7 separate regions of the Homo sapiens genome follow, and all the other regions are linked to region 2. Evidence: fine-mapped expression QTL. A gene starts in region 2. Each other region holds a variant in brackets. All regions are shown on one strand. Distances are from middle to middle. Region 1 overlaps NKAIN1 (sodium/potassium transporting ATPase interacting 1). Region 2 holds the start of SERINC2 (serine incorporator 2). Region 3 overlaps SERINC2 (serine incorporator 2). Region 4 overlaps SNRNP40 (small nuclear ribonucleoprotein U5 subunit 40). Region 5 overlaps SNRNP40 (small nuclear ribonucleoprotein U5 subunit 40). Region 6 overlaps LOC124903900 (a long non-coding RNA gene). Region 7 has its middle 16 kb from the start of NKAIN1.

What was found. PIP is the estimated chance that this variant, and not a neighbour inherited with it, causes the effect.
Region 1: its variant is fine-mapped to the expression of SERINC2 in whole blood (INTERVAL, PIP above 0.99).
Region 3: its variant is fine-mapped to the expression of SERINC2 in whole blood (GTEx, PIP above 0.99).
Region 4: its variant is fine-mapped to the expression of SERINC2 in whole blood (TOPMed, PIP above 0.99).
Region 5: its variant is fine-mapped to the expression of SERINC2 in whole blood (TOPMed, PIP above 0.99).
Region 6: its variant is fine-mapped to the expression of SERINC2 in whole blood (TOPMed, PIP above 0.99).
Region 7: its variant is fine-mapped to the expression of SERINC2 in whole blood (INTERVAL, PIP above 0.99).

Annotation. Positions count from the first base shown.
Region 1 is chr1:31,219,038-31,223,102 of GRCh38, forward strand. The region is part of intron 1 of NKAIN1 (sodium/potassium transporting ATPase interacting 1); the gene reads right to left. Among named protein-coding and RNA genes, the nearest start is that of NKAIN1, 19 kb to the right of the region's middle. RefSeq lists an enhancer at 3,217-3,717. The variant C/CA (reference allele first, on the strand shown) is at 1,717.
Region 2 is chr1:31,410,942-31,415,006 of GRCh38, forward strand. It overlaps SERINC2 (serine incorporator 2), which reads left to right and starts at 2,272. Exons shown (of 10, transcript NM_178865.5): 1 at 2,272-2,363. The coding sequence starts at 2,325. RefSeq lists enhancers at 2,020-2,520, 3,791-4,065 and silencers at 2,087-2,156, 2,237-2,296.
Region 3 is chr1:31,431,546-31,435,610 of GRCh38, forward strand. It overlaps SERINC2 (serine incorporator 2), which reads left to right. Exons shown (of 10, transcript NM_178865.5): 9 at 1,422-1,640; 10 at 2,519-3,133. The coding sequence ends at 2,654. The region is part of intron 1 of LOC124903900 (a long non-coding RNA gene); the gene reads right to left. Among named protein-coding and RNA genes, the nearest start is that of SERINC2, 20 kb to the left of the region's middle. RefSeq lists an enhancer at 2,967-3,771 and a silencer at 3,543-3,743. The variant A/G (reference allele first, on the strand shown) is at 2,490.
Region 4 is chr1:31,287,831-31,291,895 of GRCh38, forward strand. SNRNP40 (small nuclear ribonucleoprotein U5 subunit 40) reads right to left here. Exons shown (of 10, transcript NM_004814.3): 4 at 1,424-1,589. Among named protein-coding and RNA genes, the nearest start is that of SNRNP40, 6.9 kb to the right of the region's middle. The variant A/T (reference allele first, on the strand shown) is at 2,221.
Region 5 is chr1:31,263,514-31,267,578 of GRCh38, forward strand. The region is part of intron 8 of SNRNP40 (small nuclear ribonucleoprotein U5 subunit 40); the gene reads right to left. Among named protein-coding and RNA genes, the nearest start is that of NKAIN1, 26 kb to the left of the region's middle. The variant C/T (reference allele first, on the strand shown) is at 1,598.
Region 6 is chr1:31,453,070-31,457,134 of GRCh38, forward strand. The region is part of intron 1 of LOC124903900 (a long non-coding RNA gene); the gene reads right to left. Among named protein-coding and RNA genes, the nearest start is that of SERINC2, 42 kb to the left of the region's middle. RefSeq lists an enhancer at 204-1,403. The variant T/C (reference allele first, on the strand shown) is at 2,387.
Region 7 is chr1:31,253,782-31,257,846 of GRCh38, forward strand. No RefSeq gene overlaps it. Among named protein-coding and RNA genes, the nearest start is that of NKAIN1, 16 kb to the left of the region's middle. The variant C/T (reference allele first, on the strand shown) is at 2,239.

The sequences.
Region 1 (4,065 bases), 190 kb before region 2:
GGCCTTGTGGACCAGGGCAGGAGCACCAATGCGGGTCTACCCCTCACATGCCTAAATATCTAAGTTACAAACCAAACTAACAACCTCCTAAATATATGTTCTGTCTTCTAATAGACTTAATGGTCTGGTAGGCCAGGCTGTGAATTTCAATTCCTCTGACTTCTTGGAGTTTTGAGCCAGAAGGTAGTAGCATCTTTCAGCATATGGGAAAGCCAGCCCCAGCTATCAGTCCCATTTCTGGCTGGGGTCTCATACGCAGGTCTGGATCCTAGGACACATGTGTAAGCTATGTCCACACCTGCCCCTCCTTCCAAGCAGCTGGCGCTGTCTATGGGTGGACATACACACACTGGCAGCGCAGGCTGTCCTCTGGAGAAGCCCCGGCACGCCCTGACAGTGGGCTTGGGGCTGACTGGATGGGGGAATCTGGGGTCCTGAGTATCTGGGGTGGAGTCTAGGGTGGGAGCGTAGGCATAGGTTTCCAGTGAGCATGTCCCCCTGATCCTGTGGACTGCCCGCCCTGGGGAAAGGGGCATGGCCAGAGGAGGGCCACAGAAGGCCCCCTAATGCTTCCGGTACCGCCCAGGTCCCCTGTAGCGGGGCTGTGGTGTCTGTTGTGAGCAAACTCGTAAATCATCACTGGAGACACATTCCCAAAGGAAGGTCTCAGGCCACACAGGTGCCTAGACTCCAGGAGTAGCCCAAGGGTTTGGAGAGCTTGGGATCAGGAAATCCAGGTTCAAGTCCTAGCTCTGCCATGTGCTGGCTGTGATTGTGGCCCAGCAAATTCCCCTGTTGGTTCCCACTTGCCCATCTGTAAAACAGGGATGACAGTTTCTGCCTAGCAGAGTTGTATGAAGGAGCAAATGAGTGCAGTAAGGTCTGTGAAATGTTTGTGCCTTGCTTGCACAGGCTATTCAACTCCACCCTGGCCACTGCTGCTAAACCTGCTTCAGAACACTCAGATTTTTTTTTTTTTTTTTTTTTGAGATGGAGTTTTGCTCTTGTTGCCCAGGCTGGAGTGCAATGGCGTGATCTCGGCTCACTGCAACCTCTGCCTCCCGGGTTCAAGCAATTCTCATGCCTCAGCCACCTGAGCAGCTGGGATTACAGGCATGTGCCACCACGCCCAGCTAATTTTTTTTTTTTTTTTTTTTTTAGTACAGACGGGGTTTCTCCATGTTGGTCAGGCTGGTCTCGAACTCCTGACCTCAGGTGATCTGCCCACCTTGGCCTCCCAAAGTGCTGGGATTACAGGCGTGAGCCACCACACCTGGCAACATTCAGATCTTTTACGATCTTCTTTTCCTGTATAATGCTCACCATCTGTGTCCCAACATGATCACTGATAGCATCTGAGTCCACATGGGCAGGGACATTGCCTCCCATACTACCGTATCCCCAGCACCTACCTAGCACAGAATAAGCACCCAGTGGCCGGGCACGGTGGCTCACGCCTATAATCCTGGCACTTTGGGAAGCCGAGGCCAGTGGACTACCTGAGATCAGGAGTTTGAGACCAGCCTGGCCAACATGGCGAAACCCTGTCTCTACTAAAAATATAAAAATTAGCCAGGTGTGGTGGCATGCACCTATAATCCCAGCTGCTTGGGAGGCTGAGGCAGGAGAATCACTTGAACCTGGGAGGTGGAGGTTGCGGTGAGCCAAGATAGTGCCACTGCACTCCAGCCTGGCGACAGAGTAAGACTCCATCTC[C/CA]AAAAAAAAAAAAAAAAAAAAAGCATCCAGTGAATATTTGACTGGCTGGATAAACTATGAAACTTTGTGATTTGTGATTATTCACCTGGGCCTTCCATCTGCTCTTGGGGTTCATTCAAGCATCACACATTCACTGAGTTCCTTCTGAGGGCCACACTCCATGTCCACACTCAGTGGACACTTCCAGGCCTCAAGGAGCTCCCAGTCCAGGGAGAGGGATTTGATGTGGAAATAGAGCAGAATTACAACAGCATAGTACCTGCTGTGATGGAGGCAGGGGACAAGTTGTCAGGGCCCAGAGGAAGAAGTCAGTGTGGTGAGCATGCGGGAGTACAGAGATGCTCCGAGGATGAAATGATGGATTAGCAGGCCTAGGAGATAAAGAAGGAAAGAGCTTCCAGAGAGGCAGGCACAGCAAATGGCAAAGGCTCTGAGGTGTGAAACAACCCAGGGTGTTTAGGTCCATGCAACCTGAGTTTAGGGACACGGAAGTGGTAAGTTTCGGTTAGCAGGCAAGCCTGGGCAGGCTTTCAGTGTCTCTCTGGTCTAGACGAATAATTCTCATTGTGTGGTCCCTGGACTAGCAGCATCAGCATCACTTTGGAACTTGTTAGAGATGCACATTCTTGGCCCCCATCCCAGACCTCCTAAATCAGAAACTCTGGGGGTGAAGCCTGGAAATCCATATATATATATTTTTTGAGACGGAGTCTTGCTCTGTCGCCAGGCTGGAGTGCAGTGGTGCGGTCTCGGCTCACTGCAACATCCGCCTCCCGGGTTCAAGCGATTCTCCTGCCTCAGCCTCCCGAGTAGCTGGGACTACAGGCACGCGCCACCAAGCCCAGCTAATTTTTGTATTTTTAGTAGAGCCGGGGTTTCACCATGTTGGCCAAGATGGTCTCGATCTCTTGACCTCATGATCTGCCCACCTCGGCCTCCCAAAGTGCTGGGATTACAGGCATGAGCCACTGCACCTGACCTGGAAATCCATATTTCAACAAACCTCCAAGTGCTTTTGATGCATGCTAAAGTTTGAGAAACACAGCTTTAGACTTTATCCTGAAGGCAATGAGGGGCCAGGGGTAGGGTTTAAACAGAGGCGAGGCAGTATCAGAACTGCATTTTATTTTATTTTATTTTTTTGAGACAGAGTCTCACTCTGTCACCCAGGCTGGAGTGCAGTGGTGCGATCTTGGCTCACTGCAACCTCCACTTCCCGGGTTCAAGCAATCCTCCTGCCTCAGCCTCCTGAGGAGCTGGAATTACAGGCGCCCACCACCACACCTGGCTAATTTTTGTATTTTTAGTAGAGACAGGGTTTCGCCATATTGGCCAGGCTAGTGTTGAACTCCTGACCTCAGGGAATCCACCCGCCTCGGCCTCTCAGTGTTGGGATTACAGGCGTGAGCCACTGTGCCCAGCAGAACTGCATTTTATTAAGATTGCTTGCGCAGGCTGGGTCCAGGGCAGTCTGGTGAGGGGCTGGTAAAAACCCACATCTGAAAGCTGGCCTGACATGGAGACTCCCTCCAGCTGGACAGAGCTGCTGTGGCTGCAGAACATGTGTGTATCTTCACACGTGAAAGGGAAGTGGCTACTGGGAAGTCAGGGACCCCTGCTGGGCAAAGGGCCTGTTGCCAGGGTGACCACCTGTCACTCAGATAAAGGGGGCACAGTCCTACAGAGGGTCAAGAGGCCAGAGACTGTCATCTGCCAGGCCTTCACTTTCCTTTGCCAAGGCAGGGTATGGACCCATCTGGGGGTGGTGACCCGTCACCAGTGGTGGGGCTCTCCCATTCTTTCTTCAGCTGGTGCAGGGTGAGAGGAAGAGGAACAGGAGGACTCAATGCATCCTCTTCAACCAGGAGACGGATGCAGAGGAGCACATTAAACAGCTTTTCAAGGCTCCCCAACAAGGAAGCTCAGAACAACTGAGGCCCAAACTGAAGCTCAGGAGAGGGGAAAGGAAGAGAGAGCAAACTGCACCCTCAAACCTGGTGAAGTGCAAAGTTCAAGGAGTTTGGAGTCCAAAAGGCCTGGGTTAGAGTCCTGAACAAATACTGTGTGATGTTGGGCAGGCTCTGTCACTCCCTGAGCTTCAGTTTCCTCATCTGTACATGGGAGATAGTATCCATATAATAGTGTCTACCTCTTAGGGTTACTGCAGGACCAACTGAGGAAATGCATCTGAAGTGAGATGCACAGTGCCTGGCACCTCCCTGCGTCTTGTCCTCTTTTCTTCAGGGAGGGAGGAACACCTGCTCTCAGGCGGCTACTCCTTGATGCTGGGACACTTGCTGGGGAAAAGCAGCGGCTCTGGGATCAGAAATGCTCCATAAACGGCCAGGC
Region 2 (4,065 bases):
ATTTCAGTCTAAAGGATTTCCGTGCAGAAGATGACTGTGTAGGGTATGTTTTTGGATCAGACTGTCAGTCACAGAAGAAGGAGGAAAGTGGACTTATGGTAAAAGGTCAGACATTCATCCAGTAAGCATTCACTGCTTGACTGTGTGCCAGGCCCTGTACTGTGCTCTGGGTAGGAGAGGGGGTGGCCAGAGAGCAGACCGTTCTTGGGTGGCTCACAGTCCCCTAAAGGCCTCGGGTTAGGGAAGGACTGAAATATTGCTGGACAGAAAAATAGGAAGACTAGATATTGTCACCTCTACTTTTTCAAGGGAAGCAGTAGGACATCAGGGTGAAAGCCAGGCCAGGTTGCCTTTCAGCTCTGTTTCTTCTGAGCTGTGTGGCCTTCAGCAATAGTAACAACAACCACAGTGATCACAGTCAACGTTTATTCGACGCTTGATTTACATTTCGCGTGTCACTACTTCTTTGTTTCTCGGTTTCCTCATCTGTAAACGAGTGGGTGGGGAATTAATCGACTTCTCAGGGCTGTTGTGGGGCTCAAATGGTACCACGGGGGAAAGTTGGGCATGTGCTCGGGTTGTTTGTGAGGCCATAAGGGAGGCCCATATTGTTTGGAGGCTTGGGGGAATCAGGAGGATGTTCATTCCTAATGGAACCAGGTAGTGGGTTGGGGGTGAGGGTGGTGGCTCTCTTCACTGAGAGGTATGGCATGTGAGCAAGCTTCAAAGGGGAGAAAGAGGGATAAGGAGAAGGACCTTTAAGAGGAGGGCATCTGCCAGGTGCAGTGCCTCACATCTGTAATACCAGCACTTTGGGAGGCCAAGGCAGGAGGATTGCTTAAGCCCAGGAGTTCGAGACTAGCCTGGACAACATAAGGAGACCTCATCTCTACACAAAATTTTTAAAAAATTAGCTGGGTGTGGTAGTACACACTGGTGGTCACAGCTACTTGGGAGGCTGAGGTGGGAGGATCACTTGGGTCCAGGAGGTTGAAGCTGCAGTGAGCCATGATTGGGCCACTGTGTTCCAGCCTGGGTGACAGAGTGAGACCCTGTCTCAAAAAAAAAAAAAAAAAAAAAAAAAAAGAGGAGGGCATTGTGTGGGCAAAAGTGCGGAGGAGGAAAAGTATAGGGTGTGTTTGTGGAACAGTCCTGGTGCAATTAATGGCTAAGCCTGGCGCCCAGTGAATCAGCCAAGGATGCAGTCAACCAGCTCTTTGGCCCTGGGGCCAGCTTCGAGGCACAGAGACTTCTTTCCCTAACATTATCTTGTCCAGAGGTGGCTGAGGACAGGGCTAAGGGTGAAGGGAGACTAATTACAGAGCCCTACTTCTGGGTCTCTCACACCTACCCCTGGAAAGCCATCTGTCAGGAATGTGGCCGCCCCTCCCCACCTTCTGACCTCCTTAGCTAGGGACCAGTTTGGGCATCCCTAGGGAGTGATAAGCCACCAAGCAGGGGTGGCTGTAGGGAGTGTGTAGCTCCCAGCAGGCTGTTGGGAGTCAGTGGAGTTTGAAGAACAGATGGAGAGAAGGGAGGATGGGTTTAGAGTGAGAGGCTGGGGTCTTAGAAGAAGCAGTAGGTGGGCATGGTGGCATGCACCTGTAGTCCCAGCTACTCAGGAGCCTGAAGCAGGAGGATCACTTGAGCCCAGGAGGTCGAGGCTGCAGTGAGCTATGTTTGCACCACTGCACTCCAGCCTGGGTGACAGAGCAAGACCCTGTCTCTTAAAAAGGAAGAAGAAAACAGTGACGATGGGGGCTTACATTTGTCAAGCACCTACCATGTGTTGTAACCACCCTGTGAGGTATGTATCCTCACTTTACAGACCGGGAAACTGAGGCTCATAGAGGTGCAGTGACTTGCCGAAGTTTCTTTATCCAGTCATTCAGCATTCAACCTCAGCATCTACGTATTGAGCAGAGGCCCTGCGCCAAGCACTGAGGAGTCAGCGGTGACCACCTCTTGGCTTCTGTTCCCAAGGGTGACAGTGTCCTGGGGTCACACGGGCTCAAACCGAGGTCGATTTCCGAACGCTCACTTTGGAGCAGGATGCGAGCCCGGGCCACGATTGGGTCAGGTTGCGCCGCTCGCGTGGCCGCGGGAATCCCCGACCGGCCCCTTCCCTAGGGTCCCTCCTGGCGCACCTGCCCCAGGTGAGTCTGGGGAGGCCCCGAGCGCCGCCGGAAAGCGTCGAGCGGCTTCGGTAGGTGGGGCGGGGCCGGGGCGGGGCCGGGGCCGGGGAGGGGCCAGGCCCGGCACCCGGATCCCGAGGTCCGCGCCCCGCGCCCGGCGCCGGGCGCCCGAAGCCGGGAGCCGCCGCCATGGGGGCCTGCCTGGGAGCCTGCTCCCTGCTCAGCTGCGTGAGTCCCGACCCCGGCGCCCGCCCGCGCGCGCCGCCCGTTCCTGCTGCGGGCCCTCACTTTCTTCTGTTCTGCTCCGAGTAGTTTCTTCTTTTTCCTTCCTGCAAACTTGTCTTTCTGGGCCGGTGCCCCGCCTGCTCGCCCTCCTGGACCTTCACTCGGCACCCGGATCCCGCTGCCCCCGTCCCCCTGCTCAGTCCTGGCCGGCAGGCGCCGGGCAGCTGCGGTCCCGGCTCGGGTTTCCGCGGGCAGGAGGGGAGTGCCCTCGGCGGGCGCCCTCCTGGGACCTGGAGAGACTAAGCCTGGAGCCCGGGGTCGGGGCAGCTCTGTGGGCCCTCGTCGCCCCACTTGGGGCGGTCCTCGGGGTGGCCTCTGTCCCCGTCCCGGACGCCCTGGTTCTCTGTGTAGGTCGCCCGGGCCCCGTCCCTCCTGGCGAGTGCCCTGCCCTACCCCTCTGGCCGCCTGCCAGTCCGCCTGTTCCTGTCGCTCGGGCTCCGCCTGTCCGTTCGTATTTGTCTGGTTCCTGTCTGTGTCCGTCGTTCGTCCGACTGTCTTTGTCCGTCTGCTGTCTTCTGTCCGTCTGCCCGTCCGCCCGTCCGTCCCTCAGTCTCTCTGCGGTCCCTTTACCGTCCTCAGTCTGGCTCGCGCTGCCTCTCAGGCACTTCCCCAGCTCGCCCCGGATCATCTGGGCCCCAGCGCGGAGACTGGGATGGGAGCGGAGGGAGCCCCGGACTTTCTTAGCTGCCCTCGAGTGAGGCGGGTGCGGGTCGTCACGGACCACCGGGCGGAACTCTGGGTTGGGAGAGCAGGAATCGAGGGAGGTTCGGGTGTGCGCGGGGAGTGCCCGGTCGCGGGTTCGGGACCTGTGGGGAGGCCAACCTCTGTTCTGTAGCTGCAGCCGCAGAGGGGAGGGGCTCCAGCAAGACCCCGGCTGGGAGGCCCGTTCTCCCTTCCCTTTCCCCAGCCCCCCTCTCCTTTCCTCTTCCCCTCATTAAATCTGAGGTTCATTCAGGCAGCCCCCTCCCCCTCTGGCCCCACACAAAGAGGCCCTGAGAGGGAGAAGGGGCTGCAGCGGCTGCTGAATCTCGGGACTCGCTTTCCTTTGTCCCTGACGGGTTGTGTGTGTGTGTGTGTGTGTGTGTGTGTGTGTGAGAGAGAGAGAGAGAGAGAGGAGGGGGTGTAGGGGAGAGCTGAGGGTCTAGAGATTTACTTTACAGCCTTTTTCTGAGAATGAGATCAGCATAGACAGCACAGAGAGGCAAGAGAGCCTCTCGCCTCATTAGGCCTCCATTTTTCGTGTGTGTGTGTGCGTGTGCATGTGCGTGTGCAGGAGGAGGAATCAAGCTGGTGCCTGAAATCCCTCCCAGCCCAAAGAATTCAAGGTTTGGGCCAGGTCTCTGCCAACAAGGGTTTGCTTCCTGGTGAGGGAGGCAGAGCTTCCACAGTGGACCTGATTTCCATCGGTTGCACCTGGTGAGGCACAGGCCCTGCTGGGCTGGCCTGGGGGTGGAGATGTTGAGGGGCAGCCTGCCAGCCCTGTGTGCCTTGGTCACCCCATCTGGCAGTTGACAGTAACAGGGCCTTTCTCACAATGCTGTTGGGAGATGAGGCACAGTTCCTGGCATATCGTGAGTGCTCCTTGTGGGAATTATTGCTAACATCAAGGAAAGGTGGGTGGAGAATTCCATTTGGAGACAATGCA
Region 3 (4,065 bases), 21 kb after region 2:
TCCCCGACCTGGCACAGCTGTTTTTCCTGCTGCTTCCACACCCACAGCTCCCTGGCACATGCACTGCTGAGAGCCCAGGGGCACAGGTCTGTTCTTAGCATGGTTCTTACAGCACAGGCAGCAAAGAAGCATATGCAACCCATGAGGGCCAGGACCACCCAATCTGGGCTCCCATGCATGAGATATCCATATGGTATTTGGTAGATAGGGTGGAGAGGGTGGAGAGGGTGAATAGGGTGGATAGGGTGGATAGGGTGGACAGGGTGGACAGGGTGGATAGGGTGGATAGGGTGGATAGGGTGGATAGGGTGGATAGGGTGGATAGGGTGGACAGGGTGGACAGGGTGGATAGGGTGGATAGGGTGGATAGGGTGGTTAGGGTGGATAGGGTGGTTAGGGTGGTTAGGGTGGTTAGGGTGGATAGGGTGGATAGGGTGGATAGGGTGGATAGGGTGGATAGGGTGGATAGGGTGGACAGGGTGGACAGGGTGGACAGGGTGGACAGGGTGGACAGGGTGGACAGGGTGGACAGGGTGGTTAGGGTGGACAGGGTGGACAGGGTGGATAGGGTGGTTAGGGTGGATAGGGTGGACAGGGTGGACAGGGTGGACAGGGTGGATAGGGTGGATAGGGTGGATAGGGTGGTTAGAGTGGAGAGAGTGGACAGGGTGGAGAGGGTGGATAGGGACCCACTGACTCACAGCAAGGGGTGATTTCTCAATTTGCTGGGGTGGCGGGGCTGGAATCCAGCTCTCCTTTTCACTTTTGTTTGGAAACGTGAGTTGGTTTTTCAAAAATTTTTATGTCTCAAACTATCAAATTCTGTTAAAAACATCAAGGCTCATCACAGAAAAGCATGACATACAATCATTACTGTTGTTCTTTTTTTAGTGTAAGCATGAAGGAAAGGGAGGCCATTGGTAAAACCACCTGACACTAATAAAATGGAAACTTAAAATCAATGGCAAATGAGCGTGATTAATTATTAACATTCTTAATGGATGTAGTACCTGGTATGGTACTTTGTAGTATTAGGTACTCGATACGTGTTTATGGAAATGGCAAAGGAACAATCCTAACAATAGTGACTGTTGATTGAATTTATATTCTGTGCCAAGCACTATGCTAGAGACCTTACATCATTATTCCGTCTAGTCCCCCCAGCAGCCCTCTAGAGGAGGTACGATTATCCCTTATTTTACAGACAAGGAATCAGAGGCTCAGAGAGGTTAAGTGTTTTGCTCAAGGTCACACAGAAAATGGGAGTGGGGGTAGGGGTAGAGTTGAGAGGCAAAGCAGTTTGTTAACTCCCAGGCCCAGTAACCGGGTCGCTGGCCTCTGAGGCTCTGGGACCATTTGTGTCCAGTGTTATGAGCAACGCCAGAGCTATCTATTTGCCCACCTTCCTCCCTCCCCTGCAGTCTGCGCTCCTCAGACCACCGGCAGGTGAACAGCCTGATGCAGACCGAGGAGTGCCCACCTATGCTAGACGCCACACAGCAGCAGCAGCAGGTGGCAGCCTGTGAGGGCCGGGCCTTTGACAACGAGCAGGACGGCGTCACCTACAGCTACTCCTTCTTCCACTTCTGCCTGGTGCTGGCCTCACTGCACGTCATGATGACGCTCACCAACTGGTACAAGTGCGTAGCTGGTGGGGCATGGACAGAGCCCGGAGGTGCAGGGTGCAGGTCCACACATCTCTCCTGCGGCCCTTCACTGGGTTTTCCTGATGTCTGCTTAAGGCTTGGGGGTGGCGGTGTGTATCAAGGACCCTCCATAGAGCCTGCCCCTTCCCTGCTACAGTTTCCCCAACAGTGCCTTCATCTGCTCAGCTCCCGCACCTTCACTAGGAGACTGAACCGGGGAAGGCACAGCAGCTGGGGCTGGACCTGTACAGGGCAGGCGGGGTTTACAAATCAGGGGTCATGGGGTCAGATTTGGGCTTCATGGTTGGAGGGTTAGGATCAGGGTGTGGAGTGCAGAACCAAAGTTACAAGGTCAAGGATAGAAGTCATGAGGTCTGGGGCTGGGATTGTGGTCATTTAGTGTCACAAATTTGGTCATTTGGTTAAAGTTAAAATTGAGAGTAGGAGGTCATAAAGCCAGGATTGAAGTGGCAAGGTCAAGGAGCTAAATGACAGTAATAAGGTCAGGGGCCACCCCTAAGTTACAGGATCAAAGGTCAGAATCAAGGGTAGCGGTCAGGACTAAGGTCAGGAGCTCCAGGGTCCCAAGTTCAGAGGCTAGGATTGAGGTCCCAGAATTAGGATCACAAGGTTGGAGACCAGGAGTCAGGTCATGATCTCATGGACTAACACTGGGCTCAAGATGGGAATCGAGGTCAGGAGCTATGTCCACGGTCACAAGGCCGGGTGTTAAAAATGTCAGAGATGGACTGGAGTTACAGGGTAAGAGCCAGAGTTGAAGTCAGGGGTCATAACTGGGACATAAGGCCAGGGGCCAAGATGGAAGTCACCAGACTGGGCACC[A/G]GGCTCATGGGGAAGATGGTGTGTTCCAGGCCCGGTGAGACCCGGAAGATGATCAGCACGTGGACCGCCGTGTGGGTGAAGATCTGTGCCAGCTGGGCAGGGCTGCTCCTCTACCTGTGGACCCTGGTAGCCCCACTCCTCCTGCGCAACCGCGACTTCAGCTGAGGCAGCCTCACAGCCTGCCATCTGGTGCCTCCTGCCACCTGGTGCCTCTCGGCTCAGTGACAGCCAACCTGCCCCCTCCCCACACCAATCAGCCAGGCTGAGCCCCCACCCCTGCCCCAGCTCCAGGACCTGCCCCTGAGCCGGGCCTTCTAGTCGTAGTGCCTTCAGGGTCCGAGGAGCATCAGGCTCCTGCAGAGCCCCATCCCCCCGCCACACCCACACGGTGGAGCTGCCTCTTCCTTCCCCTCCTCCCTGTTGCCCATACTCAGCATCTCGGATGAAAGGGCTCCCTTGTCCTCAGGCTCCACGGGAGCGGGGCTGCTGGAGAGAGCGGGGAACTCCCACCACAGTGGGGCATCCGGCACTGAAGCCCTGGTGTTCCTGGTCACGTCCCCCAGGGGACCCTGCCCACTTCCTGGACTTCGTGCCTTACTGAGTCTCTAAGACTTTTTCTAATAAACAAGCCAGTGCGTGTACCATGTTCTGTGCCCCTCACCCTCAGCACGGAGCCCCACTGCATGGGGGCCGGTGTGGGGTTTGGGAATAGAATGTTAGGGCTGAGGAGGCTGGGACATCAGGGCCAGACCAGGAGGAGCCTCAAAGGCAGACAGAATGGCCTGAGTTCTGTCTTCTGGGTCATGGAGCGCCTGAGGGGAGGGGGCCAATGAGGAAGGAGGGGCAGACCAGGGTTTTGGGAAAGTAGGGTGTGTCTGGTGGTCAGAAAAGGAGACCCTAGAGGCAGTGGGGCCAGCAGGAGGCTGCCCGACCATCCAACCATCCGAGGGAGGGCAGTGAAAGAGAGTCACGGTGGGGAGGAGGGGGCGATGACAGGGCCAGAAGGTGGTCTTCAGGTCCCCTCTCATCAGGGCCTGCCTCAAGGTCCTGCCCACCTCTGACCTGCCTGGAATTGTTACCACCGTTGGTACCTGCCCTGACCAGTCAAGCCCCAGGCCTCGGGGTGCTGTGGGGAGGAGCATGTGCTCTTGAGTCAGCCAGGCTGGCCCAGATCCCTCCGTACCACGGCAGCCGCGGGGCTGCTGTCCGGCTCCGGATGGGTCCTTCTCTTCTCTGGGCCCTGGTTCCTCATTCATTCAATGGGAACAATGCCACCCCTCCTAGGCTGTTGTGAGGATCAGAGGAAGCAGCCCATGCAATCTGCCTGGCACAGCGAGTTCTTGAGAAATAACATCAGCCCCCATCTCACAAGGGCAGAGAGATGTGAGGGAGACTGACAGGCTCCTGGCTAGGGCCCCAAGGCCTGGTCTTGTTACGATGATGGACTGCAGGCCATTCATCCCTTCCATTTGTGGGGATAAAAAATAGGTATGAAGGTGCTGGGGATGGGTGCTGGGGACACAGCCTGTCTCTAAGGCTCTCCTGGGTTCTGGGGTGAGTGACTAGTGGGGCTGCA
Region 4 (4,065 bases), 120 kb before region 2:
CTACTGAAAATACAAAAACTAGCTGGGCGTGGTATGGGTCCCTGTAGTCCCAGCTACTAGGGAGGCTGAGGCAGGGGAACTGCTTGAACCCAGGAGGTAGAGGTTGCAGTGAGCTGAGATTGCGCCACTGCACTCCAGCCTGGGCAACATGGTGAAACCCCATCTCTACCAAAAATAGAAAAATTAGGCAGGTATGGTGGTGTGCACCTGTAATCCCAGCTACTCAAGAGGCTGAGGCTGGGGAATCACTTGAACCCGGGAGGTGGAGGCTACAGTGAGCCAAGATTGTGCCACTGCACTCCAGCCTGGGCGATAGAGCAAGACCCTGTCTCAAAGAAAAAAAAAAAAAAGCAAATTCATTAATTCATTTAAAAAGCAATAAGAAGTATGGGGGTGTAGTTTCCCAGATGTACTCTTTTGAAGTCCCTCACTGTTTAACAATTAAAATATAAACCAGAGCCCAAAATTCGTGTCAAAGAGAGAATCAAATGGTTGGTACTATGATGTACTGTGTCCTTGTGTGCCTCTGAGATAAATTATTATTTCTAGGCCTCAGTTTCCTTATTTATAAAATGAGGATGCTCAGTGAGATCAGTGGCTCCCAGAATGTGAGACTGGCTACACTGAATCACTTGAAGGACACATTAAAATATCTGATTCCCATTGCAGATCCACTGAACCAGATTCTTTGGGTATTTTTAACAGGTTCTTCAGGTGATGATGATATAAAGATAGGCTGGCAACCATCTGACTAAACGATGTTTAAGTTCCCATCTTGTGCCATACTAAAACTATTCACTGAACTTTTTATATATTGTCTATAATCTCAGAACAGCCTTTTTTTTTTTTTTGCTACCTCCCTGTTGGTGGAGATACTCATAACAGCCTTGAAAGACACGTATATTACTGTCACAGTTCTTTTTTTTGAGACAGAGTCTCGCTCTGTCGCCCAGGCTGGAGTGCAGTGGTGCAATCTCTGCAAGCTCCACCTCCCGGGTGCACACCATTCTCCTGCCTCAGCCTCCCAAGCAACTGGAACTACAGGTGCCCGCCATCACGCCCGGCTTATTTTTTGTATTTTTAGTAGAGACGGGGTTTCACCGTGTTAGCCAGGATGGTCTTGATCTCTTGACCTCGTGATCCACCCGCCTCGGCCTCCCAAAGTGCTGGGATTACAGGCGTAAGCCACAGCACCCGGCCTATTTCAAGTAACAATTTATTCTATGGTTCTATTATTATTCTGTAGGGTAATTAAAACTTGTATTAAATGTTTTATTTTAAATGGGGAAAAATTTCAAGTGTGTTATGGGAGATGACTGCTAAAATTAAGTTTTGCACAGGAAGCTAGAGTACAAGTGGCAAGGCAAGATAAGGTTCACATCACATCACCTCAGAAACTGGAACACGGAGAGACAATACCCACCTTAACTGTGCCATCGTCACTGCCAGTGCAGACAAGCTGAGGGCCTCTCCTGGCTGGATAACAGGAATTCACAAAGGAAGTATGTCCCTTTAGCCTTTTAACCCTCTCACCTGTTTCACTATCCCACACAGCCACGGTTTTATCTGTGGATGCTGAGAAAAGCATACTAGAAAGTAAGAGAAAGAATAAAAAAGAAATAAGTGAAGATAAACAGTAACAATCTATCTTTCCTACTTGACAAAAGGTGCCAAATTTTTCAAGATCACTGACCTGCTGTGCTACGCCAGTTTGCCCATGATGCTGGAATGCCTCACCCTACCAAAATCCTATTTGTCCTCTAGGCCCAGATGGCCCAGATAAAAGATCTACCCCTGTGAAGTTTAAAAAATTCCCCTTCTTTGAGTCCCCATGACATACATCTAATGTAGCAGTTTGCTCTATCTTTTCCTCTTTTGTGATAGCTAACATTTTAAACATAAGACACCCTCTCACTTGGAAATGTTTAATAACTCCCTGGTGCTGCAGAGATCAGACAGACTGTGGTACCGACCTGACAGCTGAGTGACTCCAATCTTTTCTCTTTACCAAAGTTTTTCTTTTGTCTCTGAGGACAATTTCTTTCTTTCATTTTTTTTTTGAGATGAGATCTTGCTCTGTCACCCGGGTTGGAATCATGGCTCACTGCAGCCTCGACCTCCTGGGCTCAAGTGATCCTCCCACCTCAGCCTCCTGAGTAGCTGGGACCACAGGTCTGTGCCACCATGCTCAGTTAATTTTTAAAAATCATTTGTAGAGGC[A/T]AGGTCTCACTATGTTGCCCAGGCTGGTCTTGAACTGGGCTCAAGCAATCTTCCTGCCTCAGCCTCCTACAGTGCTAGGGTTATAGGCGTAAGCAACCACGCCCAGCCTCTGAGGATGATTTCTAAGTTATAACTGATCTTATAATGCTTTCTTTTTTCATTTTTTTTGAGATGGAGTCTCACTGTGTTGCCCAGGCTGGTTTTGAACTCTTGGGCTCCAGGAATCCTCCTGCCTCAGCCTCCCAAATAGCTGGGATTATAAGCACATGCCACCAGGCCCAGCTTTCTAATGCTTTATTTAAAATGTATACAATGCTATGTATCAATTGATGGAGCACCCTAAGATTTTAGAGGTCAGAAATGTAAAACAATGAATGTTTACCAGACTACCTAACAATGTAATTACTTTTGTATAGCCAGATTTCTATATTATCTATAATATATTCTAAAATAATATAGTCATTAAAATGACGTTTATGACATCAGATGTTGGCTGAGCAATGTTAAGAGAAAAAAGGAGCAAATAAGATTGTACACACAGTTCTGGCCAGGTGCGGTGGCTCACACTTGTAATCCCAGCATTTTGGGAGGCCAAGGCGGGCGGATCACAAGGTCAGGAGATCGAGACCATCCTGGCTAACACGGTGAAACCCCATCTCTATTAAAAATACAAAAAAATTAGCCGGGCATGGTGGCGGGCACCTGTAATCCCAGCTACTCAGGAGGCTGAGGCAGGAGAATGGTGTGAACCCCGGAGACGGAGCTTGCAGTGAGCCGAGATCGCACCACTGCACTCCAGACTGGGCGACAGAGCAAGACTCCGTCTCAAAAAAATAAAATAAAATAAATAAATAAATAAAAAAGATTGTACACATAGTTCTAACAAATATGCAACAACTAAACAGTTCTGAGTAGAAAAAAAGGCATTAGAAAAATGTATAAAATTAACAGTGATTGGCCAGGCACGGTGGCTCATGCCTGTAATCCCAGCACTTTGGGAGGCTGAGGTGGGCGGATCACCTGCGGTTGGGAGTTCAAGACCAGCCTGACCAACATGGAGAAACCCAGTCTCTACAAAAAATACAAAATTAGCCAGGCACGGTGATGCATCCCTGTAATCCCAGCTATTCTGGAGGCTGAGGCAAGAGAAACACGTGAACCTGGGAGGCGGAGGTTGCAGTGAGCCGAGATCGTGCCATTGCACTCCAGCCTGGGCAACAAGAGTGAAATTCCGTCTCAAAAAAAAAAAATTAACACTGATTATCTTTGGAGTGGTAGAAATATAGACTATTTTTTCATCTTTCTGCTTTTTTTGGTTTCTCAAAAGAAATGATTTTTATAATAGAAATAGCTGATTTCAGGCCAGGCATGGTGGTTAATTATTGTAATCACAGCATTTTTGGGAGGCTGAGGCAGGTGGACTGCTTGAGCTCAGGAGCAATATAGCAAGACCATGTCTCCACAAATGATTTTTAAAAATTAGCTGGGCATGGAGGCGTGGGCTTGTGGCCCCAGCTATTTGGGAGGCTGAAGTGGGAGGATCCCTCGAGCAAGAGGTTGAGGCTGCAGTGAGCCATGTTTGTGTCACTGCACTCCAGCCTACATATAAAAATCACATTTATTTTATGTCTTAAAAAAAGAAAAATTTGTCTGGGTTGTTGAAATGACCGATGTAACATCTTTATATTTGCATACACAGACTATAAACACCTCACTTGGGGTGACAGTGATAAATCGGATACTAAAGTAGCTACCCAAAATTAGTAGTTTTTGATAGCAGGGTCTCCTGAGAAAGGATGAAAGGTGAAAGGACGCCAAGAATTAGTATGAGAAGCTGTCCTTCCA
Region 5 (4,065 bases), 150 kb before region 2:
AAATCAACTCTGTTCCTAATCCTCTGAGCCAATGATGACTTTATAGCCTTATCAAACTGAAGTAAAACTTGAAGGGCAAGTTGAGTGAACTGCTGAGATTTTATGAGCTCATCTAGGCTCTCCTGAAGACTGTGTCCCAAAGTAGTACTTCTGTATAACTGATATGATATGGCTTAGGAAGAAGAAATTGTTTTTCTTATTCAAGCTTGCCTTGATGTCCTGTGCTGAAGGTTTCCTGCCATGGAGCAGACAGAAGTGACCAGGAGCCCAGCAGGGGGTTCCTATGTTCCTGACCACCTCTTCAGTAGCCACAGAAACTACAGAGCTGAACCCAAGACTCTGGAGCTCTTAATATACTCTCGTATTTTACTTTCACTTACCCTCCATAAATGTACTGGCTAAAAAAAAAAAAAAAAAAAAAAGTTCCTTTGACCCTCAATCTTGCTTAAGTCATTAAAGGGTAAAGTATAGAGCTATTATCTTAATCTGATGATGTAAAATTCATCTGTTGGTAAATATAAAGGGCTGGTAGTTTTGAAGCAGGTATTTAAAATTATTTACATATTTTGTTTTGTGCAATCAACAACTCACCAGTACTTGATCATAAAAATGGTACATTCACCAGTACTGGATTATAAAATGCCTAGTTCTAATCCAACTTACACTTTTGGTCAAAAATGCAAATAAACAAGAGCTTCTTAATTATACTATTTAGCTGTCATCAGCTAGGCTCCATAGAAAGTAAGTTCTGAACAAGATGGAAGAGAAGCAGGAACTCCATCTGTCTAGACTCCATGGCTCTGATACTCATGCCCTTCCTACTGTCTTCTTTCTTGTCATGCACAAAAAGCTGGTCCTCATTAATTCAATAAAGGGCAGTATGGCATAGTGAAAGAGTATGAGCTCTGGAGTCAGAAAGACTGGGGTTCAAGTCTCAGTGCAGCTATTTACTAGCTAAGTAAGCTTAGCTCAGAGAAGTTAAATAATTGCAGATCATTTAACTTCTCTAAGCTTCTTAGTTACAATGATGGAGAAAATATTGATCTCATAACTTTGTTGAGAAAAATAATGAGGTAATATATGCAAAGTGCCTGGCACACAGAATTAATTATAGCTATTGTTATTATAAGTACACTCATCATCAAAACAGAATCTCATGAAGTCAATGGGCTGAATAAATCACTCTTGGCCGAGAGACTGGTCAGCCTTCCCGTAGCCTATAGGACTATTCAGAGTTTCAAGTTTGAATATGAGGAGGTGATCTGTAAGTTATTAGTTAGTAGAAAGGAGAAGTTTGCCAAATCCAGGCCAAGCTGAAAAGGAGTTTTCTGAGGATACATTTCCCAGGCACATAAAAGACAGAATCCCAGATCTCCAAGGGTTTACACTTCAAGGTCTCACTCTTGATGGCTGCCAATTAGATGCTAAATTTAGAGGGGTTCCTTGCCCTCTCCTTACTTTGGCATGGCAACATTTGGCAGGAACCAGAAGCCTTATGTAACACAGCTGCTTCTTGACTTGGGGCCAATTGGTGAGGTGGCCTGTCAAATCTTGCCAACCCCCAGCAGGTAGAGAGGGATAGGCTTTCCTCATACCA[C/T]GCTTTCACATGTGATTTTGTTTTTTTTTAAAGAGATGGGGTCTTGCTCTGTTGCCCAGGCTGGAGAGCAGTGGCATGATTGCAGCTCACTATATCCTCAAACTCCTGGGCTCATGGGGTCCTTCTGCCTCAGCCTACCAAGTAGCTGGGACTACAGGTGCACACTACTATGCCTGGCTAATTTTTTAAATATTTTTTTTATAGAGACAGGGTCCTGCCATCTTGCCCAGGCTGGTCTTGAACTCTTGGGTTCAAGCCATCCTTCCACCTCAGCCTCTCAGAGTGTTGGGATTAAAGGTGTGCACCATTGACCACATGTAAAGTTTAAAGGAACAGTGGAGAGGAAAAGAGAAAAAAAGGACATTGCAATTCAGAAAGGGCCAATGCCAGAAACAAACTGCTCATCAGAAAAAAAAAGTATGTAAATATAATTTAAAAATTTAATTACAGCTGGGTGCAGTGGTTCATGACTGTAATCCCAGCACTTTGGGAGGCCGAGGCAGGCGGATCATGAGGTCAGGAGATTGAGATCATTCTGGCTAACACGGTGAAACTCCATCTCTACTAAAAATACAAAAAACTAGCCAGGCGTGGTAGCGGGCACCTGTAGTCCCAGCTACTCGGGAGTCTGAGGCAGGAGAATGGTGTAAACCCAGGAGGTGGAGCTTGTAGTGAGCAGAGATTGCACCACTGCACTCCAGCCTGGGCGACAGAGTGAGACTACATCTCAAAAACAAACAAAAATTTAATTACAAAAGATACACTCTTTCTGCTGAAAATTATGTAAAAATACTTAGGATAGTTCTTACTATATCAGAATATGAGACACCTTAGTCTGTTTCTTGAAGTCTTCTCTAGCAACTTGATAACTTAAAATTCTTTAGATTTCCCTCTTCTAGGCAGCTCTCTAAACCACTTGCACTCAAATGATCAATGTGACACTTTCACCTGGACCCTTTCTTTTTCCTCCAGAAAATACCTGAATACTTGTCCATTTTTCTTGGCATTAAACTTGTCAGGAAAAAAAAAAGTAGACTCTGGAATTTAAATATGTTCAGAATTATTCATTAATAGAAAGGTATGGGACAGATCACAGTGCAGCTTCTGTGTGGCAGCGTTAGGGCCCCAAATAGAGGAAAACCCTGGAATATGCTGAAAGCCCTGGCTAGCCCAAGAAAGTCTTCCTATTTATAGGATGGTGCTTGTTTCAGTAGGATTGAAAGAGAAACTCTAAAGGGGAGGATAGGATTAAGCTAAAAAGGGTCAAGACACTGCCCAATGAGAGCTAAACACAGGATTTGCTGTCAGAGGGTCTTATTGTTCTTTACCAGGCCTCATTTGCAGCCCATCAGACTCGACACCTGGACATCCCTATTCAACCTCTGATTCTCCCCCAAGCACAGGTTACCACAGACATGCCAAATACAACAGCATCTGACAGAAGAATTCTCTCCCTTCTGTTTCTCATTCAGCACATAATGCCTGAGCCAGTTTAGATTCGTATTTCATAAAGCCTTAGCCGATTAATTCAGCATGGGGTGGAAAATACCTAGTTCACATTTTGTTACACCCTGCACCTAGCAATCATTGCACTTCCCACTAACCCAGACACAGCTCTGAATCATCTCCAACACAGGCAGGCATTACCAATAGCTGAGCTGCTATGCAGGGTAAAATTGGACTGCCATTCTTCAGCTAGGAATTCATTCATGTAATATAAACTAATTGGTTAGAAAAGCTCAAGCACTGACAACAGTGCCATGGGTTCACAGAAATGACTAAGATTCATTCCCTAATCTCTAGGAGAAAATAACTTAGTGGAGGTACCTCACTTTGTCTGTCTGATTGTAAGATGTAATAAATGCTACCAAAGTTTAGATGTATGAAATGGGATTACAGCACAAAGAACAATTAGTTATCTCCAAGAGGTAATAGAGAGAGGGGACCAGGGACAGTTTATGGATGTAACATAGAGGTGGTTACTAGAGAGATATAGGAGTTTAGATAATGAAGAGGGAATGTGAGAGAGAACCTAGAGGTGAGAACGCAAAAGGAGGTTAGAATATGAAAATTCCATGTGCGCAGCATTGTGGTGATGGTGGGGGAGGTGGGTATTTAATATGTGTTCAAATGAACTGAAGCATGGAATAAGAAATGTGGTGAGGGAAACTAGAGACAGATTATGAGACTGAATTTTATTCTGATGGCAAAGGGAACCCAACAGAATCAAACAAATTGTTGATCCTCTAGGTCTAAAATGTCTCCAAAGTGGGTAGAAATGATCTGTTTGTCGAACACGGTTTTGAAACCCTTCATACTGCACAGAGCTTCATCTTCAAGCACAGTCATAACTCTATGTCTGCTCTAGCTCCATATCCACGCTTTATGTATAAAACACAAGAAGACATCCTGCATAGCTATATCATTGTTTTTTTTTTGGAGATGGAGTCTCGCTCTTGCTGCCCGGG
Region 6 (4,065 bases), 42 kb after region 2:
TTTTTGTTTTAAATTCTGTTTATGTGGTGTATCACATTTATTGACTTGCATATTTTAAACCATCCCTGCATCCCTGGTATGAAACCTACTTGATCATGGTGGATTATCTTTTTCATATGTTGTTGGATTCAGTTAGCTAGTATTTCGTTAAGGATTTATGCATCTATGTTCATCAGGGATATTCGTCTGTAGTTTTCTTTTTTGGTTATGTCCTTCCCTGGTTTTAGTATTAGGGTGATACTGGCTTCATAGAATGATTTGGGTAGGATTTCCTCTTTCTCTATCTTGTGGAATAGTGTCAACAGGATTGGTACCAATTTTTCTTTGAAAGTCTGGTAGAATTCATCTGTGAATCTGTCTGATCCTGGACTTTTTTTTGTAGCTAACTTTTTCTTACCATTTCAATCCTGTTGCTTGTTATTGGTCGTTCAGGGTGTTAGTAACAAATGCTTGTTCCTCGATGCTGCAAAGAAATGCACTTGAACATAAATTTAATTTTCTCAGCAAGGCAATTTTTACTTCTATAGAAGGGTGCGACTTGCGGATGGAGTAATGGCGAAAGCATGCCTGAACAAGGGAAGGGAAGTGGTTCTTATTCCTGATGCAGGTAGCCCCTGCTGTTGTGTCATTCCCCTATTGGCTAGGATTGGACCGCACAGTCTAAGCTAATTCTGATGGGGTATTTTAAAGAGAGCAGGGGTACGAGCCAGAGTGTCAGGGTGAGTAGTTTGGCAGGAAGGGCAGTTATAGAACAGGTGACTCAGGATGATTCAGGTCAGAGCAGGTGACAGGGGTGACTCAAGATGGAGCAGGTGGCCAGGGGTGACTCGGGTCAAAGCAGGTGACCAGGGGAACAGATGTGAACTACTGATTAGAACTGGCAGGAAAGTTGTTTACTGAAACTAGAGGCAAGGGGGGAGGGCAAGAGAACCAGGAAGTTAGACTTAAAAATGGAGAATAAAGAATAAGAGAGCTGAACATACTGACATACTGATTCTTTGAAAAGAAACTTGGAGTTCACTATCTTTAACAATCCCCCATCTTGAAATTTTACAGTTGTTTCTCTTCAAACTTCTTTAACATGTCTTGGCTTAGTTGTTCTGCTTGATTCTCTAAAAGAAAAAGCTTCTCTGAATAAGGTGGAGGAGAATTAAAGGAGGTTTTAGTAAGTGCTGCCTTTATGAGCCTCTGCACCAGCCTATGGATGCATGGTATGACACAACACCTGAAAAGAATGGCTATACCTATTATGGCTGCAAGAGAAGTAAGAATTGAGGCTATGATTCCTTTCCATTTACTGAATCATTTTTCTAGCCACCTGGTGAAGCGGTCATTTACTCCTGAGTTTTTGGCTAACTCGTTAGATAGAGCAATTAGACCTTGCAATGCCTTTGTTATACTTCCATCAGGAGCAATATTGTTTGGGATGAAGGTACAACATTGAGTTTTAATCATGATGCAAACTCCTCCTTTTTCTGCTAACATTATGTCTAAGGCTATTCTATTTTCCCAAGCCATCTGGCTAGTAGCCCCTAATTGCTCAGCTATTTCTTTAATAGCATCTCTAGTGTAGTTTATAATAAACTGCTGTTGGTTGTAATAAATGTAATTTATCCAATCTACATTTTTATTAATTGTTACCCACCAAAATATTGACTTACATCCTGCAGCTATTTGATTTCAGGCTTTAAATTTATCTGGTACTCCTGGTGGAACTCCAATAGCATTTATATAAACATGGGAATCAAAGGACCCATGTGAAGCACTTCTTTTACGATTTTCTTTTTTTTTTAATCGTGTTGACGGAATGCTAGGGTGAAAGGGATGGCCAATTGGACTAAAGCATGAGTGCTGCTTTAATTACTTGGCAGAGTACCCAGCAATAGTCCCCTGCAATACCACTACACATCTGCTCGGGGATGAACAAGGGCAGACTGATGGGTAACCTCTTGAAAAGGCTTGGTTTCACTGCACCCTGTTAAGTCTCCAAGGAATGCTAACTTTTTCCTCTGCCATGAAAGGCAGGAGGTGAAGTAAACACCAGGGGCTGGAGGCTGGATGGACCTCAGGGGCTGACCCGCAGGGCTCTTAACCTCAGGGAACAGCAGTGAAAGAGTCTTCCATCACTCATCACCCCAGGCTGTGGGGTTTTGGAAGAGAGCTACCATAACAGCTCATGCCCGGTCCGTGAGAGGACCACCCAAGTGGAAAGGGGACAATCTCTGTCTCTGGGCTGCCTGTCACACAAGTCTAACAGTCACTTTTGTTTAGCATGAGAACAGAATATTTAATCCATTCAAGCCAAGCATTTGTGTCCTGATACCCTGTGTCAATTGCTATAGTTTGTTTTAAATCTTTAACCTCTACAACTACTTTGGTTTTATCA[T/C]TGGGTATATAACAAGAGAAGGTTTGGTTAGCGGAGAACTTAAGAGAGGGAGAAGGGGGTGGAGGAGGTGAGGCGGCAATGAAGCGCATTTCAAAGGATCCTATGGGGGTTGTTCCCTGAGACTTCTGCCCCTATACCATAGAAATGGCTTAATGGAGGGGAAGAACTCTGGGGAGCAGCGATGGTCATCTGTACTGGATTCCATTGGTTCAGCTGACAATGTGGAGGGATAACTCCTTTAGTAAAATGAACATATGGTTTTAAGAAACTGCAAGTACTAGTTGGAGCAGTCCATCCTCGCTCTTTAGTATTTTATAGGTCCATATAGTATTTTATATGGACCAACTTCAGCAGAGAAGCTCTGCTGTAGAAGGACAAGATTCCCAGTTTATACTGGAATCTTCGTCAAACTCTTCTCAAACTAACCTATCCCAGTTAACAGATTTCCAGTCTAAGGAGAGCTAGGGAGGATAAATATACTTTTCTGAAGCAGAGAGTTGCTTCTGACTTGGCAAGTCTCCACAGCGTATAACAAAGCAAGCATCAAATGTAATATTTTGAGGCAAAATTGGCTTGGTTACATTAATAACTAGGTGGTCAGCAATAGAATGAGGAAAGAAGTAATAGAATAGATGAAAGAGAGTTAAATTTTTCTTAGCTTTAGTTTGGTAGGGTTTTCCTCTGGGACTATGGTCCATGACCGTGGAGGGGGCGGCGCTTTCTTGACTCGAGTGTGAGGGGTCCACCCTTTTTCTGCTGTCCGGACTGCAGTTTCAGTAGTTAGGAGCGCTAGGTAAGATCCTTCCCAGGCTGGTTCTAATTTTTCCTTTTCTCTAACTTTTGACAGGGACGTGGTCCCCAGGCTGATGTTGGTGTGCTGGAAACTCTAGGGGTGGCACCTGTGCTAAAAGACCTTTAGTTCTGAGGGAAGGGAAAGTAGACGATAAACCAAGTATATAATTTCTGAGAAATTGTTCTTTTGTTTTAAATGTAGAGAGATCAGTAGTAGAATGTAGATAAGGCAATCCATAGAGCATCTCATAAGGGGACAGGCCTGTCTTTTGGGGGAGCAGTTCGGACTCTTCACAGGGTAATATGCCTTCCTACTTTCCCTGATGAAGGTGGATGCCAGAGAGTATGATATCCCCATGTTATATCCAGTATCTGTGCTAATTTCTTAGTGACATGTGCTGTGAAATGAGTCCTATTATCTGAATCACTGTTTTCTATTAATCTAAACCTGGGTATAATATTTTTAACTAATGCCTTGATTATATTATTAGCATTTGTACTTGAAAAGGGAATAGCTTCTACCCAATGAGTAAGGTGATCTACTATTACTAATAAATACTTTAGACGACCAGTTGGAGGCTTCTCTGTGTAATCGATTTGGATACTTTGGAATGGGCTTAAGCCTGGACTCCTTCCCCCAAGTGGTAATCTTTTACTAAGCAATTGTCTGTAACCTGTTTGGCCGGGGTACACATTTCTATGCACTTATAAACTCTGAGGACTGTGTTACACATGGCTTGGGGCCCCCAGTGGGTCTCTTGATGTAGTTGGGACAAGATTTCCCTCATAAGGGGTTTGGATAACATTTCTCTCTGGTCTAGCAATATCCATTTTCCTTCTGAATTTTCTTTAGCACCATTTTTGTTCGTTTTTAAACCAAAGAAAGC
Region 7 (4,065 bases), 160 kb before region 2:
TGCGGGGATTACAGGGGTGAACCACCATGCCTGGCCAAGGACAACTATTAATAAGTAAACAGGACAAGGCTCTAGCACTCTCCTAGGAAAGATTAAAACTTTCCGAGCCTGTAGAACAGTGGTTCTCAAACTTGCACCAGAATCTCCCAGATGGCTTGCTAAAACACAGACTACTGAACACTTTACTCCCCCAAAATTTCTTGAAGGAGAAGTTAACTTGGCTTTATGCTGCCCTCCTGACTATAGTTCTAGCCATGGCCAGCACCAGTGTTCTCAGCCTTGACTGCACACTGGAATCACCTCAGGAGGCTTTAAAATCTGATGTCCACCTCAGAGATTCTGATTTATTTTATTTATTTATTTTAATTAACTTTTTTTTTGAGACGGAGTCTGGCTCTGTCGCCCAGGCTGGAGTGCAGTGGCACGATCTTGGCTCACTGCAAGCCCCACTCCCAGGTTCATGCCATTCTCCTGCCTCAGCCTCCCGAGTAGCTGGGACTACAGGCGCCTGCCACCGCGCCTGGCTAATTTTTTTGTATTTTTAGTAGAGACAGGGTTTCACCGTGTTAGCCAGGATAGTTTTTTGTTTTTTTTTTTTGAGACAGAGTCTTGCTGTGTCACCCAGGCTGGAGTGCAGTGGCGCAATCTCGGCTCACTGCAAGCTCCGCCTCCCAGATTCATGCCATTCTCCTGCCTCAGCCTCCCGAGTAGCTGGGACTACAGGCACCCGCCACCACACCCGGCTAATTTTTTGTATTTTTTAATAGAGACGGGGTTTCACCGTGTTAGCCAGGATGGTCTCTATCTCCTGACCTCGTGATCCGCCCGCCTCAGCCTCCCAAAGTGCTGGGATTACAGGCGTGAGCCACCGCGCCCGGCCAGAGATTCTGATTTAATTGGCAGGCCTTGGTGGGGCACTAGAAACTGTACTTCCAGGAAGTTCTCAAGTTGTGGATGCTGTTGATCCAGGACCCCACTTTGAGAATCACTGCTCTAGAGCAGGATTTCTCAAAAGCATCACTCATGACATCCTAAAGCAGTTAATTCTTTGAGCATCTCTGGCCTCTACCCACTTATATGTCTGTAGCACCCCTCTAGATAGCTCCAGACATTGTCAAATTGTTCCCTGGGAGGCAAAATTGCCTAAGATTGAGAAGCACTGCTCTAGAAGATCTAAGTTAAAAAAGAATGCAAGAGTCTAGGTGGGTTGCAGTGTCAATTGAAGAAAAGAAGTTGAAGCCTAGAAGAAAGAGTTTGGAACATCCCCGGGCTTGATGCAGAGGATGGCCATCCATGCAGGCTTCTTTCAGAGGAGCATCATTATGTGTCTGGGGTTCACAGACAATTGATCAAAGGGCAGGCTAAGAGGCTAAGAGCTCAGACCTGGCATCATTTGGTTCCACAGGAACAGGGCTGTCCATTTTAAGTCAGGCTCCTCCCTCTTCCTGGGACATCAGCTGTCAAGCCCCAAAGACTCTTGGAAAAAGCAATCCTGTCCTAACCCAAATGGCCTGACAACCTTTCTTTAAGGCTCAACTGCCTACGGCTCCAAATTGCTCAGAGCTCTCTTTTACCTCAGTTTCCCATTCTTCTACTTTGAGATGTTAGTAAGCGGCAGACTCTAGTCTATTAGTAAGAAGCAAATAGTTTTGTTGTGAAGAAGCAACTCTGATAAGCCTTTACCTGTTCTTTCTAGCTTATTAGATCCAATCCCTGAAAAAGATTGTTCTTGTCTTTGAAACCAGCAACTCTGCCTATTACCTATTTACTTGAAATAGAAGACAACGTCTGGAGGCTTGGATCTGCTTCCCTACAGGACTCATCCTTGCATAACTTCACTAGGCCCATGAAGGTCTTCAGGGATTAGCTTCTCTAACCTGAAAAGGGATCGACCATCCCTGAACAACCAGGGGAAGTAGGTGAGGGAAGACAGTACCAATTTTTGTTCTGATGGGCTGGCCTGTAAATAAACTGTTTAGGGGGTTGGGACTGAACGGGATTAGGGCTACTGACTAGGAGAAAAGGTAGTTATTATATCAGGGAGGCCAAAAAAAAAAAAAAGGAAAAATAACCTGAAAATCTGCCTCCCTAAAAATTCAACCCACAAAACTCAGCCACGCAGCAAAAAAGAAATTTGGCTCTTTAAGTGCCAACAGTATTAAGTGCTAGAGATTGTGGAAGTCATAAAGGGAAATTAACTGAAAATCAGGGATGCCATTACTCATTCGGGAGCAATCT[C/T]TCTCTCCCAAAGTGAGAATACAATCTGCACCCTCTGGGGATCTTTTATACGCAAATCTTTATTCCCCAGGCTGGGGCTTCTATTTTCTTCAAATTCTAAATGGTGCTGCTATTTCCTGCTAATGGCTTCTACCCAGCCTCTTGAAGAAGGCACCTGAGGGGGGACTGAAGAAGCTGAGGTTAGAGGAAAGCCCTCACAGTCTCCAGGGTCTTGGCTCTTCCCAATCACTGCCAACTTCTCAAGGGATTGGTAGGCTTTTAAAAGGGCAGTGTCAAGGTTGAAGCCCTGTTGTATTCCAACCCAAGAAAAGATGAGGGTGGGTGGAAGGGACTGGACCGGTTTTCAAGTACAGGTTGAATATCCCTTATCCAAAATACTTGAGACCATAAGTGTTATAGATTTTGGATTTTACTATTTTTTTTTGAGACAGGATCTCACTCTCACCCAGGCTGGAGTGCAATGGCAGGATCTTGGGTCACTGCAGCCTCCACCCACTGTGCTCAAGCAATCTTTCCACCTCAGCCTCCCAGGTAGCTGAGACTATAGGTGCATGCCACCACACCTGGATAATTTTTGTATTTTTTGTAAAGACAGGGTTTTGCCATGTTGTCCAGGCTGATCTCAAGCAATCCTGGGCTCAAGCAATCTTCTCGCCTTGGCGTCCCAAAGTGCTGGGATTACAGGCATGACTCATTGCACCCAATTTCTGAATACTTGCATATATATAATGAGATATCTTGGGACCCAAGTCTAAACACAAAATTCATTTGTTTCATATACACATAGCCTGATAATTTTGTAAAATATTTTAAATAGTTTGTGCATGAAACCAAGTTATTTTTTTTTTGGAGATGGGGTCTCATTCTGTCACCCATGCTGGAGTGCAGTGGCATGGTCATAGCTCACTGCAGCCTTGATCCCCTGGGGTCAAGCGATTCTCACCTCAATCTTCCAAGTAGCTGGGACCACAGGTGTGTGCCACCACATCTGGCTAACTTTTAAATTATTTGTAGAGATGAGGTCTTGCTATATTGCCCAGGCTGGTCTCAAACTCCTGGGCTCAAGTGAACCTCCCACCTCAACCTTCCAAAGTGTTGGGATTATAGGTGTGAGCCAGTGTCCAGCTGAAACAAAGTTTTGACTGCGACCTGTCACATGAGATTAAGTGTGGGATCTTCCACTTGTGGCATCATATGGGCCCTCAAAGTTTAAATTCTGGAGCATTTAGGATTTTGGATTAGGGATGCTGATATAGTTTGGATAGTTGTTCCCTCCAAATCTCATGCTGAAATTTGATGCCCGATGTTGGAGGCAGGGCCTAGGTGGAGGTATTTGGGTCAAGGGGGTGTATTCCTCATGAATGGCTTGATGCCCTCCTTGTGGTAGAGTTTTCATGGGTTATTTATAAGTGCATGGCACATCTCCTCCTCTCTTGCTCCTTCTCTTGCCATGTGATACATCTGCTCCCCCTCTGCCTTCCACTATGACTGGAAACTTCCTGAGGTCCTCACCAGAAACAGATGCTAGTGCCACCCTTTTTGTACAGCCTGCAGAACTGTGAGCTCAATAAACTTCTAAGTTACTCAGCCTCAGATGTTTCTTTGTAGCAATGCAAAATGGACCAAGACAGATGTTCTACCTGTATGTGGACCTGGTGCTTAAAAAGGATTATTAGGGAGTGTTCAGTGATACTGCTGGAGGTGTGAAAAGCAGCTTGCATACTACCTTTGTCCAAATTTCTCCTGGTTAAAGGCATAACCATATATATATATTGCTCAGACCAGAAATCTGAAAGTCACTATTCCCTTTGGAGATTCTACCATACT